2 linked regions of the Homo sapiens genome follow. The protein of the gene in region 1 interacts with the protein of each later gene in a pairwise test. Each region holds a gene or a part of one and is shown in the gene's direction. Other genes may lie near its edges.

Region 1 (7,797 bases):
CCACTCCAGGCACACCTGTAGCAGAGAATCAGACAGGGACCCAGGATGTTTGCTGGAGTTCCTCTATCCAGGAGGTCTTAACTTGACTTTCCTAAAGGAGAAATCAACACTTCCTTGATGAATATTCACATCTTCCAGGAAGGCTTTCCCAATTATTCAATTCTATACTGAGTTCTCCCTTTTCTGATCTGCTATAGCAATTTTATGTTTGTTAAGCCCACAACATTCTGTATATTGTCAGACATGTTTCACAAGACCACATCTCGTTTTCCTAAGTCCAGTGTGTGCATCTCAAGAGCTAGTGCTCCAGGGTAGGAGACCCAATGGAAAAGCAGGACATGGACACCTGAGGGTACAGAAGGTGCTACTGAAGATACCCTGATTCATGGATGATGGGGCATCCAAAGACACACTTTAGTGACTTTAACATAGCAGCATGATCCTCAAAAAGATCCTGTTAAGTAACCTTCAAATCACTAGACAGTGTGATATTCCTTTCTTGGGTCTAAATTTTGGCCATTATTCAACCTTAGGGCCTACAAGTGTGTGCTGTCACAGTAGGAACTGAACCACATCAGATTGGAGTCATGAGCTTTTGGTGTAAATAGCCAACTCTAAACTTGCTCTAAGTCAAGTAGGCTGGAAGCACCCCAAGATGACCCTCCCTGTAGCCTTGAATGGTACCCTTTCCCCATCAGCTGCCACATGTCCTCCTCTCTACTCTCGTCTTCATCACAAAGAATCTGACAAGCTCATTCCTAATAGGGCAACAAAGACTTAAAGAGTGAGATTTGCCTTTTCCCTAAAGTACGTCAACACAGGAGAAAAGTGCAAGCCGTTACAACAGAAATGTAATGGTGAAATTTTAGGTATCAACCAAAAAGTTGAGGCTTTTCTTTTGTGTAAGAAATTTCCAGCTACTAATCAAATGACTATATATAAGTAGCAAACTATCCCCACTATTATTAATAAATTACATATTTTTCTTTATCCTATACAATTTCATAAATGTACTCACATTTTATAATAACTATAATTTGAATAGTCATAGTATATTCATGTCTCCAAAGTGCTGGGTCATGAGTTAGATGAGTTAGGCAGATCATGGGTTCCAAGTCTACCTCCCTGGGTTTACACCTGCACCATTGAGGCAAGTTGCTTAAATGTGTTTGTGCCTCATTCTCTTCATCTGTACAATTGGAGAAAATATTCCCCACCTCATGAGGGGTATTGTAATGATGAAATAAGATCGTATACACAGGCATTTAGAACCTTGCTGGACACTTGGTTTATGTTCAATAAATGTTAGCTATTAGTAAGATTTATTTCTAAATAATAAACATTTGCAGCTGGCAAATTATAGATTTTTGGCAGGTCTTCATATTTTAATTTGCCATGGCTTATAAAGAATATTTGGCATAAAGGGAAGTTCTTATAAGATTGAGATTCGTGATTTGCTCAGCATTTTCAAAAAGTGTGTGATGAGGTTGACTACACAGCAGTGAATTTTATTTATTTATTTATTTATTTATTTATTTTCAGACAGAGTCTCACTCTGTCACCCAGGCTGGAGTGCAGTGGCACGATCTCAGCTCACTGCAACTTCTGCCTCCCGGGTTCAAGCAATTCTCTGCCTCAGCCTCCCAAAGATTTATTTCTTACATAAATGCATGTTTTTAAATTTTGATTTCCAGATGGAAGCTATCCCCAAAGATGATTCTACATTATCTGAGAGAAGGCGAGAGCTTCACAAGGAAGTTGAAGTAGCTAAGAGGAATTTGGCCCAACAGGTTAATATCAATGCTCATTTAAGCTTCTATCTAAGAAGCGTTCATACAAAGTTGTGCTTTTAACTGTGCTCCACAAAACCTTATCAATAAGAGAGTCATCAAAGAGAGTATGATCCTGCTTCATGTGGGCATATTTCTTCATCTCAAAGTCCACTCCAATCCTACACTAAATTTGAGAAAAAAGAATATGTTTGAACCGCAAAAAGTATTCAAAGGAATGAGATTTTTAAATTATGGGCTGTTGATTACATTAAAAGTAAACCACAGATGTTTTATTTCACCAATGTCTAATTTCAAATTTTCGTTTGTTTTTATGTGTCTTCTTTTTCTTAGTCACTTGAAAATACAGTCTAAATACAAAGAGGTTCTATCATGTTAACCCATCGATTTTCACATTATTTTACAAAATGAAAACAATGAAGCTAAAACACCATTACTTTATTTTTAATTTTTATTTTTTTTATAGAGAGGGATCTTGCTATGTTGCTCAGGCTGGTCTTGAACTGCTGGCCTCAAGTCATCATCCTGCCTCAGCCTCCCAAAGGCTTGAATTACAGGCGTGAGCCACCACACCTGGCCTGTTTAAAAAAATACATTTTGTATAGGAAGTAAAAAGGTAGTCTAAGATACTAGCTTTACTGTATTACTTCAAACAAATAACTTATAATATTATCTGTGTTTTTTTTCAAAAGAAAATTATATCAGAAATGGAGTCTAAGTTAGTAGAACAACAACTTGCAGAAGAAAACAAGCTTTTAAAGGAGCAAGAAAACATGAAAGAGCTAGTAGTCAACCTTCTCCGCATGACTCAAATCAAAATTGATGAAAAGGAACAAAAGTCCAAGGATTTCCTGAAAGCTCAGGTAACTGCATTTTTTTAACCATTCATTGATAACTACAAGAGTTCAGGGTAGCCTCATTATAATGCCACGTGCATTAGGACATGGATGAAGCTAGAAACCATCATTGTCAGCAAACTATCGCAAGGACAAAAAACCAAACATTGCATGTTCTCACTCATAGATGGGAATTGAACAATGAGAACACTTGGACACAGGAAGGGGAACATCACACACCGGGGCCTGTTGTGGGGTGAGGGGAGCGGGGAGGGATAGCATTAGGAGATATACCTAATGTAAATGATGAGTTAATGGGTGCAGCACACCAACATGGCACATGTATACATACGTAACTAACTTGCACATTGTGCACATGTATCCTAGAACTTAAAGTATAATAAAAATATATAAATATTAAAAAAAGAACTGGAAGGAAACTCAAAAAAAAAAAGAAAAGCTATACAATTGACCCTTGAACAACATGGATTTGAACTGCATGGGTCCATTTATACACAGATTTTTTTCAACCAAATGCAGATCAAAAGTAGAGTACTCACAGAATACAAAACCTGCAAATATGGAAGGCCCACTTTTCTTACAGGTGAGTTCCACAGGGCCAACTTTGGGACTGCTTGAATATGCTTGGATTTTTGTATTCTCAAAGGGTCCTGGAACCAGTTCCCTATGTATACCAAGGAACCACTATAACTGTGCCTCTCCTTCAAGTACCAGTGACTATAAATCTTCCCTAAATGAGATTCAATCATGCACTGAAAGATAGTCCCAAGATTCAATTAACAGTAATCAACAATTTAGATGGGAAAGGAGATCATTGATAATGATCGGAGGATTTGAACAGATGGCAATTTCAGTAAGAATAAAGTGGGTGCCTCCAGTGGACAGGGCTGGCAGCTGCATAGGCTGCAGATATCATTTAGTTTTCACTCCCATCTCAGACTCCACTGTGATTTGTCCAGGAACAACTCAAGAGTGGTAGCATTAGGTAACTGTCCCTCCCAACTTCATCAAGACAGCATCATTTAATCGAATGCCAGATACCCTTAGTTGCTTCATCACACCATGATTTTCCTGGGCCTCCTACAAAGTGCCAGTGCAACATTCCCCCCTAAAATCAACAATAAAACAAATGGTAAGGCAGCACTCCTGTCATGCAAGCTAAAATTCTACCATTAGAATTGTTTATTCCATATAAGGATTATGTCCAGATCATGCCCAGAAGCTCCCTGTTAAAAATAAACAGGATATTACATATTACTAAAATAGAAGAATTTATCAGGCCAGGCATGGTGACTCATGCCTGTAATCTCAGCACTTTGGGAGGCTGAGGCGGGTGGATAACTTGAGGTCAGGAGTTTGAGACCAGCCTGACCAACATGGTGAAACCCCATCTCTACTGAAATACAAAAATTAGCCAGGCATGGTGGCAGGTGCCTGTAATCCCAGCTACTTGGGAGACTGAGGCAGGAGAATCGTTTGAACCTAGGAGGTGGAGGTTGTAGTGAGCCAAAATCGCACCACTGCATTCCAGCCTGGGTGACAGAGCGAGACTTCCTCTCAAAAATAAAAAAAAAAAAGAATTTATCTCATGACCCAGATGTGGTCTGTTTGGTCTGTTTCTAAGCACATCCCTTGTTCTCAGTCTAAGTAAGGATTTACATAGAATGGTATTTCTTCTCATTCTGCAGAAAGAGCTCACTCACGCCAAAGCATTAGTGAGCAATGAGGTATGAAGTAGATTTTTGCAAAAAAGAGAAGATCTACATTGCACAACCCACTGCAGGCACTTCACATCCCCCTTTCACTGTTTATTTTTCTACTTTAATATTTAAGAAACTAAAAGAAGTTCAGGATGGCTGGCACATGGGAAGATGGGGAGAAAGGATGTCAAATAGTGAGACCAGAGAGCGGGACAAGTCAGATGATGAAAGTCACTTAATCCATGTTAAACAATTTAGACTCCATAATGAAGGCTGCAGCAAGAGTGAAGTTCATGGAGTAGTTGGGTTTCACTAGGTAAAGAAGTGGTCAGGGAGGACTGGATGAAAGAAAGGCAGCTTCAAAGCACAGGGTGGCTAAGCGGGTAAGATGCAGGAGCAGGACAAGGAGAGGAGAGAGGAGAGATGTGGGAAGATCATCTTGGGCCAGGAGCGGTCTCTCACGCCTGTAATCCCAACACGTTGGGAGGCCAAGGCGGGTGGATCACCTGAGGTCAGGAGTTCAAGACCAGCCTGCCCAACATGGTGAAAGCCCATCTCTACTAAAAGTACAAAAAATTAGCCTGGCGTGGTGGTGGGCACCTGTAATCCCGGCTACTCAGGAGGCAGAGGCATGAGAATCGCTTGAACCCAGGAGGCGGAGGTTGCAGTGAGCTGAGATTGCGCCACTGCACTCCAGCCTGGGTGACAGAGCGAGACTCTGTCTCAAAAACGAAAAATAAAGAATAAGAAGGAAGGAAGGGAGGGAGGGAAGGAAGGAAAAGAAGGAAGAAGAAAGCCATCTTCACCAAGTCAGGGTCTGGGACAACTTGGTGTTGGCTGGGAAGATCCCACTCAAGTGAGTCTTTCCTAGTTAGAAACTTCCTCCCTTTTCTCTTTAGAAATTACAGAAACACCAGAGGTATACTTATTTGTTATAAGAAACACTGATCCGTTTTATGAATTAGATAATTTTCAATTAATTTCAAAAACTGATATACATGTATATCTATGTGTGACTAATCTATGTAAAGCAAACCTCATTATTAAATGAGCTAATTTGTATTAAACCAAAATAGACAATTCTTCTTGAGATACAGAAATTGATAAAGGACAAATGTTTATCCCTTGAGTATTTTTAGCATTAGGAATTAGTGTGTTAAACATTACCTGTACTTAGCTGCAGTTTCCATAAGAAGGCAATCTTTTATGTTCACATTGCATCCACATCCCTAAAGACAAAGGTGAAGAAAAAAAAACAATGTCACTATCACCCCTAAGACAGAATAGATGACACTACATTTTCCCATCTGTTTTATTATTCATGTGTACAGTTACTTAAATATTCGTTTCTTCCTGACCCCTATTCTCATGGAGAACAGCATTAGAAAAATGCTACACATCAATCTTGGCTCTATGGCTAGTTTCTTTCAAATCACTCATACCAAAAGGGCTTTGCTCTCAGTCCTTGAGAGAAGGCTGACAAACTCTTTCCTCTGGTTTACTACCAGCAAATCCTTCATTTTTGAATATGTTTCTTATCCCAGATGCAAGAACCAGTATCTTTTGATTTGAAGAACATAACTAGTGTATTTAGCACTTGATATATTTTTTAGAACTCTAGAAATATAACTGCTTTCTTTTAAAATATTTATGTGTAACACCTCCTTACAGCTGATCTCAATATGATGCCTTATTATGTAGGAAAACACCCCACATACAAAAGAATGGAAAGCACTTTAAAATCATTGCTTCAGTCTCTGACAAAACACCACAGAGGGTTCAGTTTATAACACTCACCAAAACTTACTAGGAATCCTCTTCTCTCATCTATTTTCCATAAACTACACTCACCCAGTCCAGCTGTGTGGTTCAAAATCACTCTTCCTCTCTCTCAAAAGTTGTCCAAACTTTTCCTCAAACCCAAGCCATGCAGGCTCTTTGCGTTTTCTCTTCTCTCGTTTGTTCTCTTCTTTAGGTAACAGTTAACAGTTTGTCTTAGCCAATGTGAATCAGTTCAGCTAGCCAGGGAATTTTCAGATCTCTTTTACCCTTCACCCTGATCTGTACAACCCAGCAAGCCAAGAAATAATTTTTTTTTTTTTTTTTTTTTTTTTGGAGAGACAGGATCTTACTTTGTCGCCCAGGCTGGAGCGGAGTGATGCAATCATGGCTCACTGCAGCCTCGAATTCTTGGGCTCGAGCGATCCTCCCACCTCAGCCTCCTGAGTAGCTGGGACTACAGGTGCACACCACCATACCCAGATAATTTTTTTATTTTTGTAGAGATGAGGTCTCACTATGTTGCCTAGGCTGGAGAATTGTCTTTAATGGAAGGGAATGATGTGGGATAAATCTGGGAGTGTTCATATGTTGTTATTTATTTCACATTTTTTTGTACATTTCAGCAAAAATACACCAACATTGTTAAAGAAATGAAAGCAAAGGATCTTGAAATCAGGATACACAAGAAGAAAAAATGTGAAATTTATCGGAGGTAAAGTAATTATGTGGTGTTTTATCTACGTAGGTGAGGGGAAAAAAACCTGATGTTCATTTCATAAGTTTCAGTAAACACTTTGTATTTTTACAGACTGAGAGAGTTTGCTAAACTGTATGACACCATTCGAAATGAAAGAAACAAATTTGTTAACTTACTCCACAAAGCTCATCAGAAAGTAAATGAAATAAAAGAAAGGCATAAAATGTCATTAAATGAACTTGAAATTCTGAGAAATAGTGCCGTTAGTCAAGAAAGGTAAGTGTTATAATAACTATTGGCCTTTCAAAGGCTTGTTTTCTGATTCATTTGAACTCTAAAAATCCTGGGGATAAGAAGATAGGAAAGAGGCAGAGGCTGCAATGAGCCAAGATGGTGCCACTGCCCTCCAGCCTGGGTGACAGAATGAGACCCTGTCTCAAAAAAATAATAAAAATAAAAAATAAAAAGAATAGTATTTTAGAAAGCCAGAATTAGAAATCCAGAAAAAGCCCTTGTTCAAACATCTTGTTTTATAGATGATAATCTACCATGCTTCTACTCTTTGGGAGTCATTTTTTTAATGAATGAAAAACCATAACATATAACTATGCTTACTATGATGATTTTCACCTGCCCAATTAGAAAGAAAAGCACAAATCTAATAATTGGGATTGGGAAGTTAGAAAACAATCAAATCGTTTGTTAACCAACATCCCCTGATTGTAGATGTAAAGCATCTCATGTGTTGTGGGAGGCAATACGTTATAGCAGATTGGTGAAAGAGGTGGTGTCCAGACTCAAATACCACCCCTCCCACTTATTACCTCTGTAACCTTGGACAAGCTGCTTTGTCTCTCTGAGCTCACTTTCCTTATCCATACCATATTTCATGCGACATTTTACTGTGAAATGAGCTAATTCATATAAAAACACTCAGAAAAGCGTCTGGCAAATGGTTGTTTTCTTCATTT
Region 2 (7,797 bases), on another chromosome or scaffold:
CAGGGAGGGTTGTTTCAGTCTAGGAGTTTGGGGCTGCAGTGAGCTATGATCATGACACTATACTGCAGCCTGGGTGACAAGAGCCAGACCCTGTCTTAAAAAAAATTCATTTGGGCTGGGCACTGTGGCTTACACCTGTAATCCCAACACTTCGGGAGGCCGAGGTAGGCAGATCACTTGAGGTCAGGAGTTCAAGACCAGCCTGGCCAACATGGTGAAAGTCCGTCTCTACTAAAAATACAAAAAGTAGCTGGGCGCAGTGGTGCACACCTGTAATCCCAGCTACTTGGGAGGCTGAAGCGGGAGAATCGCTTGAACCCAGGAGGCAGAAGTTGCGGTGAGCTGAGATTACGACACTGCTCTCCAGCCTGGGCGATAGAACGAGACTACATCTCAAAAAAAAAAAAAAAAGTCATTTGATCCCACATCCCTCTCCAGCTTCTGTTGCATTTCTCTGCACTCTTCATAGGAAAACTTCTCAAAGAAGTTACCTGTACTTGGCTGGGCGCAGTGGCTCATGCCTGTAATCCCAGCACTTTGGGAGGCTGAAGTGGGTGGATCACCTGAGGTCAGGAGACAGACCAGCCTGGCCAACGTGGTGAAACGCTCTCTCTACTAAAAATACAAAATTTAGCCGGGCATTGTGGCAAGTGTCTGTAATCCCAGCTACTCAGGAGGCTGAGGCAGGAGAATCACTTCAACCCAGGAGGTGAAGTTTGCAGTGAGCCAAGATCGCGCCACTGCCCTCCAGCCTGGGTGACAGTGAGACTCAGTCTCGGAAAAAAAAAAAAAAAAAAGGAAGGTACCTGTACTTGTACTTTGTGTGCTTTCTTGACCCCTTAACTCTTAAACCCACTGCATTCTTTTAGCAGATATTTATTGCATGCCTGTTTTGTGCCAAGTACCGTTGTAGCTTATAGCAGAACACAAAAAAATCTCTGTCTTTGTAGAACTTACACTTTAGTGTGGAGAGAAATAATAAAATAATAAGTAAATTATATAGGTTGTACAGCACCTGCGTAAGTCTGGTTCCTTCATCAGTGTACTAGATCCTATCCTTTGTAGTAGATTCCATTTTTGCCTGCTGAAGGATGTACTCTTGCAGTTGTCCCTTCTCCTGTATCATCAGTTTTTCTTTAATCATTCCCATCAGCATATAAACATGCTGGTATTTCTCCCATCTTAAACTTTCTTGACTTAATTTCCACCTCTAGCCATTCCTCATTTTTCTGTTCCCCTTATAGCAATATTTGTTAAAACAGTTGTTGGTTAAATCTGTACTCGTCTCGAATTCCTGCTTGTCAAGAATCATCAGTGACTGCTATATTGTTAACTTCAGTGGTCAGTTGTCAGTCTTGACTTTGCTTGAAAAATTTTGCAGTTTTCTACAACAGCACTGAGCCATAGTAAAGAAATTAACTTATAGGTTTGGTCTAAGGTTAAAAATTAACATAATAGGCCAGGCATGGTGGCTCATGCCTGTAATCCCAGCACTTTGGGAGGCCGAGGTGGGCAGATCACCTGAGGTCAGGAGTTCAAGACCAGCCTGACCAACATGGAGAAGCCCCATCTCTACTAAAAATACAAAATTAGCCAGGCGTGGTGGCACATGCCCGTAATCCCAGCCACTCAGGAGGCTGAGGCAGGAGAATCCCTTGAACCTGGGAGGCGGAGGTTGCCGTGACCCGAGATCGTACCATTGCGCCCCAGCCTGGGCAACAAGAGTGAAGCTCCATCTCCAAAAAAAAAAAAATTAACAGATGCAGCAGAAATGCAGTCATAAAAGGAATTCAAGGAAACAATTACAGGCTTGTTGGGAAGGAAATGAGACCAGAAAGAGTAAAATAACTTTTGAGAAAATAGATCACAGAATTCAAGAGCTCAGTGAGGCTGAAGTGGAAATGGTATGGCAGTGAGGTTTTGAATTACCAGAAAGGATGATCTGAGAGTATATTTGAGCTTAAGATTTCAGAAAGGGATCAAGTAAAATCTGTGATCTTGTCATAGAACCAAATGGCAGAATGAACTAGAGGTGAAAGTCTTTGGAGTTGCAGGACCCATGGTCACCCACATAAATGTTTATTCATCCTAAATGATTGCAGGACCTTGTGAAGAACACTGTGTACCAGTCACCATAGTCCACAAATAAGTGGGGAGGAATTGGCTGAATGAGACAGCCACGTGCCAATAGCAGGCGAGTTGCAGGGTAATAGAGCCCTGAGTTTTGAGCTTCAGACAGAGGATGAGTTTTTTTGTTTGTTTTCTCTACATTAGGTAGAGAAACAGTGATTATGAGGCTGAAACTCCATGAGGTCAGGGGCTGGGGCTGTCTTGCTCACCCCTCATTCCGTGTCTACTACAGCGTTCTCTGTACATAGTAGGTGCTCAGTAAATTCTTTTCATTGAATGAATTAGGAGCACTCTACAGAGTTCTGTAGGAGAGGTAATTTGAGGAAGAGACTAGCTTTAGCGATAAACAGAAGTAGAGGGAGCATGAGAAATGGTTGAAGATGTAGAGGAGGCTGCTTCAGTAGAGGGTAGTGATTCTTGGTATTTCAGAAAAGTTAATATGCTCAGTGTCTAAGCACAATTGTGAAGGCCTTTTTGGCACTGCAACTATTTTAATTAAACTATTAATATAATATATAGGATGACCTGAGTAAAAGTACTGCTTGATTTTAAAAGTGCTCCCCTTAATCTGTTTTGTTACCAGAAAAAAAAAGTGAACAAGAATTAAAAGATGAAGAAATGGATTTATTTACAAAATATTACTCCGAATGGAAAGGAGGTAGAAAAAACACAAATGAATTCTATAAGACCATTCCCCGGTTTTATTATAGGGTAAGTAGTGTCTAATCAAATGTCCTGCAGAGTTTAAAAATGAAATATAATTTTTGGCAAGGCAGGGTGGCTCATACCTGTAATCCCAACACTTTGGGAGGCTGAGGCGGGAGGATCACTTGAGTCCAGGAATTTGAGACCAGCCAGGGCAACATAGCAAGATCCCATCTCTAAAAGAAATTTTTTAAAAAATAGCTGGACATGGTGATGCATGCCTGTAGTCCTAGCTTCTCAGGAGGCTGAAGCAGGAGGATTACTTGAGCCCAGGAGATCGAGGCAGCAGTGAGCCGTGATTGTGTCACTGCACTCCAGCCTGGGTAACAGAGTTAGACCCTGTCCTCCCCACCCCCAGAAAAAAAAGTAGTTTTAAAAATAGGACCAGAATTTTATGTTTTAAAAATAGAGAATTATATTTTAAATTTTATATATTATTTTATTGTAATTGATCTTATCACTATTATAAAACATTTTGAGCCCAATAAAATCCCAAGTTTAGATTTAAGTGGGTATGTAAACACAAAGTTGTTAAACTGTGGGCTTTTTCTTTCTGATTTTTATTATAGATATTAGTAGTAAGTATTCTATTGGATTATGTTATCAGGTATACACTTTGTTATAAAGTTTTAAAATTTTGCTCAAGGCTAAACCGAAAAATAGATTATGGAAAACCTAAAGAATTTCACTTGAGGCCAGGCATGGTGGCTCATGCCTGTAATCCCAACACTTTGGGAGGCCAAGGTGGGTGGTGGATCATGAGGTCAGGAGTTCGAGACCAGCCTGACCAACATGGTGAAACCCTGTCTCTACTCAAAATACAAAAATTAGCCAGGCGTGGTGGCGCGCGCCGGTAATCCTAGCTACTCAGGAGGCTGAGGCAGGAGAATCACTTGAACCCAGGAGGTGGAGGTTGTAGTGAGCCCAGATCGCGCCACTGCACTCCAGCCTGGGTGACAGAGCAAGGCTCTGTCTCAAACAAACAAACAAAAAAGGAATTTCACTTGATTATTTTTTCCTTGTGCCAAAACTCTGAAAATGGCTATGAAGGGACGTATAGACAAAATAGACCTTAAGAAAAGCTATTCATGGTAGGGTCACTGCACTCCAGCCTGGGTGATAGAGCAAAGACCCTGTCTCAAAAAAAAAATGTTGGCCAGGTGTGGTGACTCACACCTATAATCCTGTCACTTTGGGAGGCCATCAAATCAGGAGGATCACTTGAGGCCAGGAGTTTGAGAACCAGTCTGGGCAACTTGGTGAGATCGTGTCTCTCCAAAAAAAACTTAGCCGGGCATGGTGGTGCGCACCTGTAGTCCCCGCTACTCAGGAGGCTGAGGTGGAAGGATCGCTTGAGCTCAGGAGCTTGAGGCTGCAGTGAGCTGTGATCATGCCACTGCATTCCAGCCTGGGTGGCAGAGCAAGAGCCTATCTCAAAAAAAAAAAAAGAAAAAGAAAAAAAAAAAAGCCGTTTACAACCTGGCAATGGTAGGGCAATTCGCCTGTAGTCCCAGCTACTCTGAGAGGGTGAGGAAGGGAGAATCTCTTAAGCTCAGCAGTTTGAGACCAGCCTGGGCAACATAGTGAGACCACCCCACACCCCATCTTTTTGTTTTTTTTTTGAGATGGAGTCTCACTCTGTTGCCCAGGCCGGAGTGCAATGGCACGATCTCAGCTCACTGCGACCTCTGCCTCCCAGGTTCAAGTGATTCTCCTGCCTCAGCCCTCCTAAGTAGCTGGGATTATAGGTGTGCGCCACCACGCCCAGCTAGTTTTTGTATTTTTAGTAGAGACCGGGTTTCACCATGTTGGCCAGGCTGGTCTCGTACTCCTGATCTCAGGTGATCTACCTGCCTCGGCCTCCCAAAGTGCTGGGATTACAGGCGTGAGCCACCATGCTGGCCCATCCCATCTTTTTTTTTAGAGGTCTATTTTTTTTTCTTAAGGTCTATTTTGTCTATTTAAAAAAAATAAAAATAAAAAGCTATTTATACCTGAAACTGAAATCTACTGAAAAATACCTATTTAGTATTATACAAGTTAACTGGAATCTTAGCTGGATGTTCCTTGAACCTATTACCTTCTAACTCTATTAATTACAACGTTATTTGCAAGTATAGTAAACAATGATTTAGCTGGTGTTCTTACAGATTAAGGTATTTATATAAGTGAGTTATCCAGATACTGAAATATTTCTTCAAGTGCAAATTTTTTTCAACCGAACATTTTTTATTGGAAACCTTCCTATAATACTATATACTTCTCAACCTTTTAAGAATCATATGCCTGTAATCCTAGCCTATATTTATTGTAGAAAAGGAAAAAATATGGCTAAACAAGTTGATCTCTTCCCATGACAACATCACCCAACAATGTAAACAGAACATTTTATATGAATCTTTCTACATATTTCTGTGGGTATCTGTGTATTTTTTTAAATGGGATTACATCATACATACCTTTACTGCTTTTTGCATTTCACACTCTCCTTAAACAGAGGCAGCTAAATAACTGAATATTTTTGATAGCCGAGGGGAGAGAGAAGGGAATTGACATTTATTGAGTGTCTAAGCACTGCAGAGCCCTTTGTATTCTTTATCTCATTTAACCTGGATTCTTAAATAATATGTTACTGTTATCGAACATAGGTTCTTGGGTTCTCAATGCAAAAGGGAGAGAGAGCACCTGACTCTGAAAAGAGCTGGTAGGGCTTTTTAAAAAAAAATCAGGAATTGATATTAGGGTGGGGTATGCAGGCTGGGCTGGGCAAAGCAGATCAGGTAGGGTATGCAGGTCAGCATTGTCTGGTTGCTATGGTTATCTTGAGCAGCGGGCCACCTGGTCTGGCTAGAGGCAACAAGGCTGTAAATCAGTTGTTCAGCATTCCTTCCCCAGATAGGACACTCACTTCACAACTTTGGTTATCTCCTAGTTACTGGAATTCTTTTGAGTAAAAGGCATGGTTTGGACATTATGGTGTCAGTGAGGTAGTGGTGTGGGTTTTGTGATCAGTGGGAATGCATGAAAAGAGTGCCATAGTGGGAGTGAGCTGACCCAAGCCCCCATTCCTACTCTGTCTCATTCCTAACAGCTCTTGGATAGGAATGGTGTGACCCCGTTCCTGAGCCCAGGACTGAACTTTCTTGTACTTCCGGGACCAAACCTTTGCCTTCTTTTTCTGGTTCCTGAGGGAATCTCCTTTTTTTCCTTTCTTCGTGTCACTTCTCTCTTTGGCCACCTCTAGATCTTAGATGGTCTCCTGTCTGCAGCTATGGATTTGTAAAAAAGTCCTTTCCCTTCTTTCTTCTTCCTCTCCATGGTCCCACTGCTTCAGAGAAAACACCTATTATCTTGAGTCACCACTTCTCTCCTTGGCTGATTAGCTGGTTAACTAGCCACTAGAACACAATGTCAGTCACCCCCAACTCCAGCCCCATCCCCATCTCCTAATGTTTCTTCTGTTGACGAAGAGTTGAACTCTGTAAAATATTTGAAGAGATTTATTCTGAGCCAAATATGAGTGGCCATGGCCTGTGACACAGCCTTCAAGAGATCCTGAGAACATGTACCAAAGGTGGTTTGGGTGCAGCTTGGTTTCATACATTTTAGGGAGGCATGAGACATCAATCAAATACATTTGAGAAATACATTGGTTTGATCCAGAAAGGTGGGACAATTTGAAGTGGGGCTTCCAGGCTACAGGTAAATTCAAATGTTTTCTGGTTGACACTTGGCTGAGTTTGTCTAAAGACCTGGGATCAAACAGAAAGGAATGTCTGGGTTAAGATAAGAGGCTGTAGCGACCAAGGTTTTATCATGCAGATGAAGCTTTTAGCTAGCAGGCTTCAGAGAGAATAGGTTGCAAAATGTTTCTTATTAGACTTAAAGTCTGTGTTGATGTTAATGCCAGAGAGGTATAACGAGGCATGTTTGACCCCCACTTCCCATCATGCCCTGAAACAGTCTCTCAGGTTAAATTTTAAGGGCGCTGACTGAGGAGGAAGTCCATTCAGATGGTTGGGGGGCCTTAGAATTTTATTTTTGGTTTATACTCCTTTAACTCTGTTCCTTCTGATGGGAGGGATGGCATCTTAGTTCCTGGAAATGAAAGATGAAAACCATAACCCCAAGTTTTGACGTAAGGTTTACCGAGGTAATTTAATGGGGCTAAGATGTAGAAAAGGAAGAAGAACTCTTTAAAGTAAATTATTCTGGCTGGGTGTGGTGGCTCATGCCTGTAATCCTAGCACTTTGGGAGGCCAAGGTGGGAGGACTGCTTGAGTCCAGGACTTCAAGACCAACCTGGGCAACATAGCAAGACCCTGCCTCTATTATTAATTTAAAAAAGAAGAAATAAAGCAAATTGTTCTAAGTCAGGTTGGAATGAATCATTCTAAAGCTCTGCTCATGGAAATCACCCCAGTTGGCAAACCCTCTTGCCTGGGAGGCCAACATAATAGGCACTGCCTTGACTGTCTCCAAGAAGAAAGGTGATCCAATCTCAACAGGCATGCTTTCCTAAAACTGGACAAGAAGAATAAATGGTTTTTGCTGGACAGGAAGAATTACAGGTAAGAACCACCCAACAGGTTCTTCTTGCCTGCTACCCAGATAGAGCCAATTTATCAAGATGGGAATTGCAAGAGAGAAATAATTTCATATACATGGAGACAGCTAAATGGGAGACAGGAGTTTTATTATTACTCAAATCAGCCTTCTTGAAAAGTTGGAGGCTAGGGTTTTTCAAGGATAGTTTGGTAGGCAGGGGCTAGGGAATGGGTACTGCTGATTGGTTGGGGATGGAATCACAGGGATATAGAAAAACAGTCCTGGTCCTTGCGTGCTGAGTCTGCTTCTGGGTTGGGGCCACAGAGGAGTGGCTGGTCTGAGAGGGGCCATTGGGTAGTCAGAAGTGCAAAAGCCTGAAAAGACATCTCAAAAGGCCAGTCCTGTGTACTACAA

Evidence for each region. Proteins that work in one complex are often made in the same cells at the same time.
Region 2: the proteins of CCDC146 (region 1) and PPP2R3C interact in binary tests that used the Homo sapiens proteins (3 or more experiments, as listed by UniProt).

The regions. Positions count from the first base shown.
Region 1 is NC_000007.14:77,272,000-77,279,796, forward strand, and holds part of CCDC146 (coiled-coil domain-containing protein 146), read left to right. Parts: intron 1-1,694; coding exon 1,695-1,790; intron 1,791-2,223; exon of another isoform or gene 2,224-2,368; intron 2,369-2,482; coding exon 2,483-2,653; intron 2,654-5,514; exon of another isoform or gene 5,515-5,576; intron 5,577-6,144; exon of another isoform or gene 6,145-6,353; intron 6,354-6,752; coding exon 6,753-6,841; intron 6,842-6,937; coding exon 6,938-7,102; intron 7,103-7,797. UniProt on the Homo sapiens protein: Essential for sperm flagellum biogenesis and male fertility.
Region 2 is NC_000014.9:35,111,654-35,119,450, reverse strand, and holds part of PPP2R3C (serine/threonine-protein phosphatase 2A regulatory subunit B'' subunit gamma), read left to right. Parts: intron 1-2,713; coding exon 2,714-2,841; intron 2,842-6,320; exon of another isoform or gene 6,321-7,376; coding exon of another isoform or gene 7,377-7,406; intron 7,407-7,797. UniProt on the Homo sapiens protein: May regulate MCM3AP phosphorylation through phosphatase recruitment. May act as a negative regulator of ABCB1 expression and function through the dephosphorylation of ABCB1 by TFPI2/PPP2R3C complex.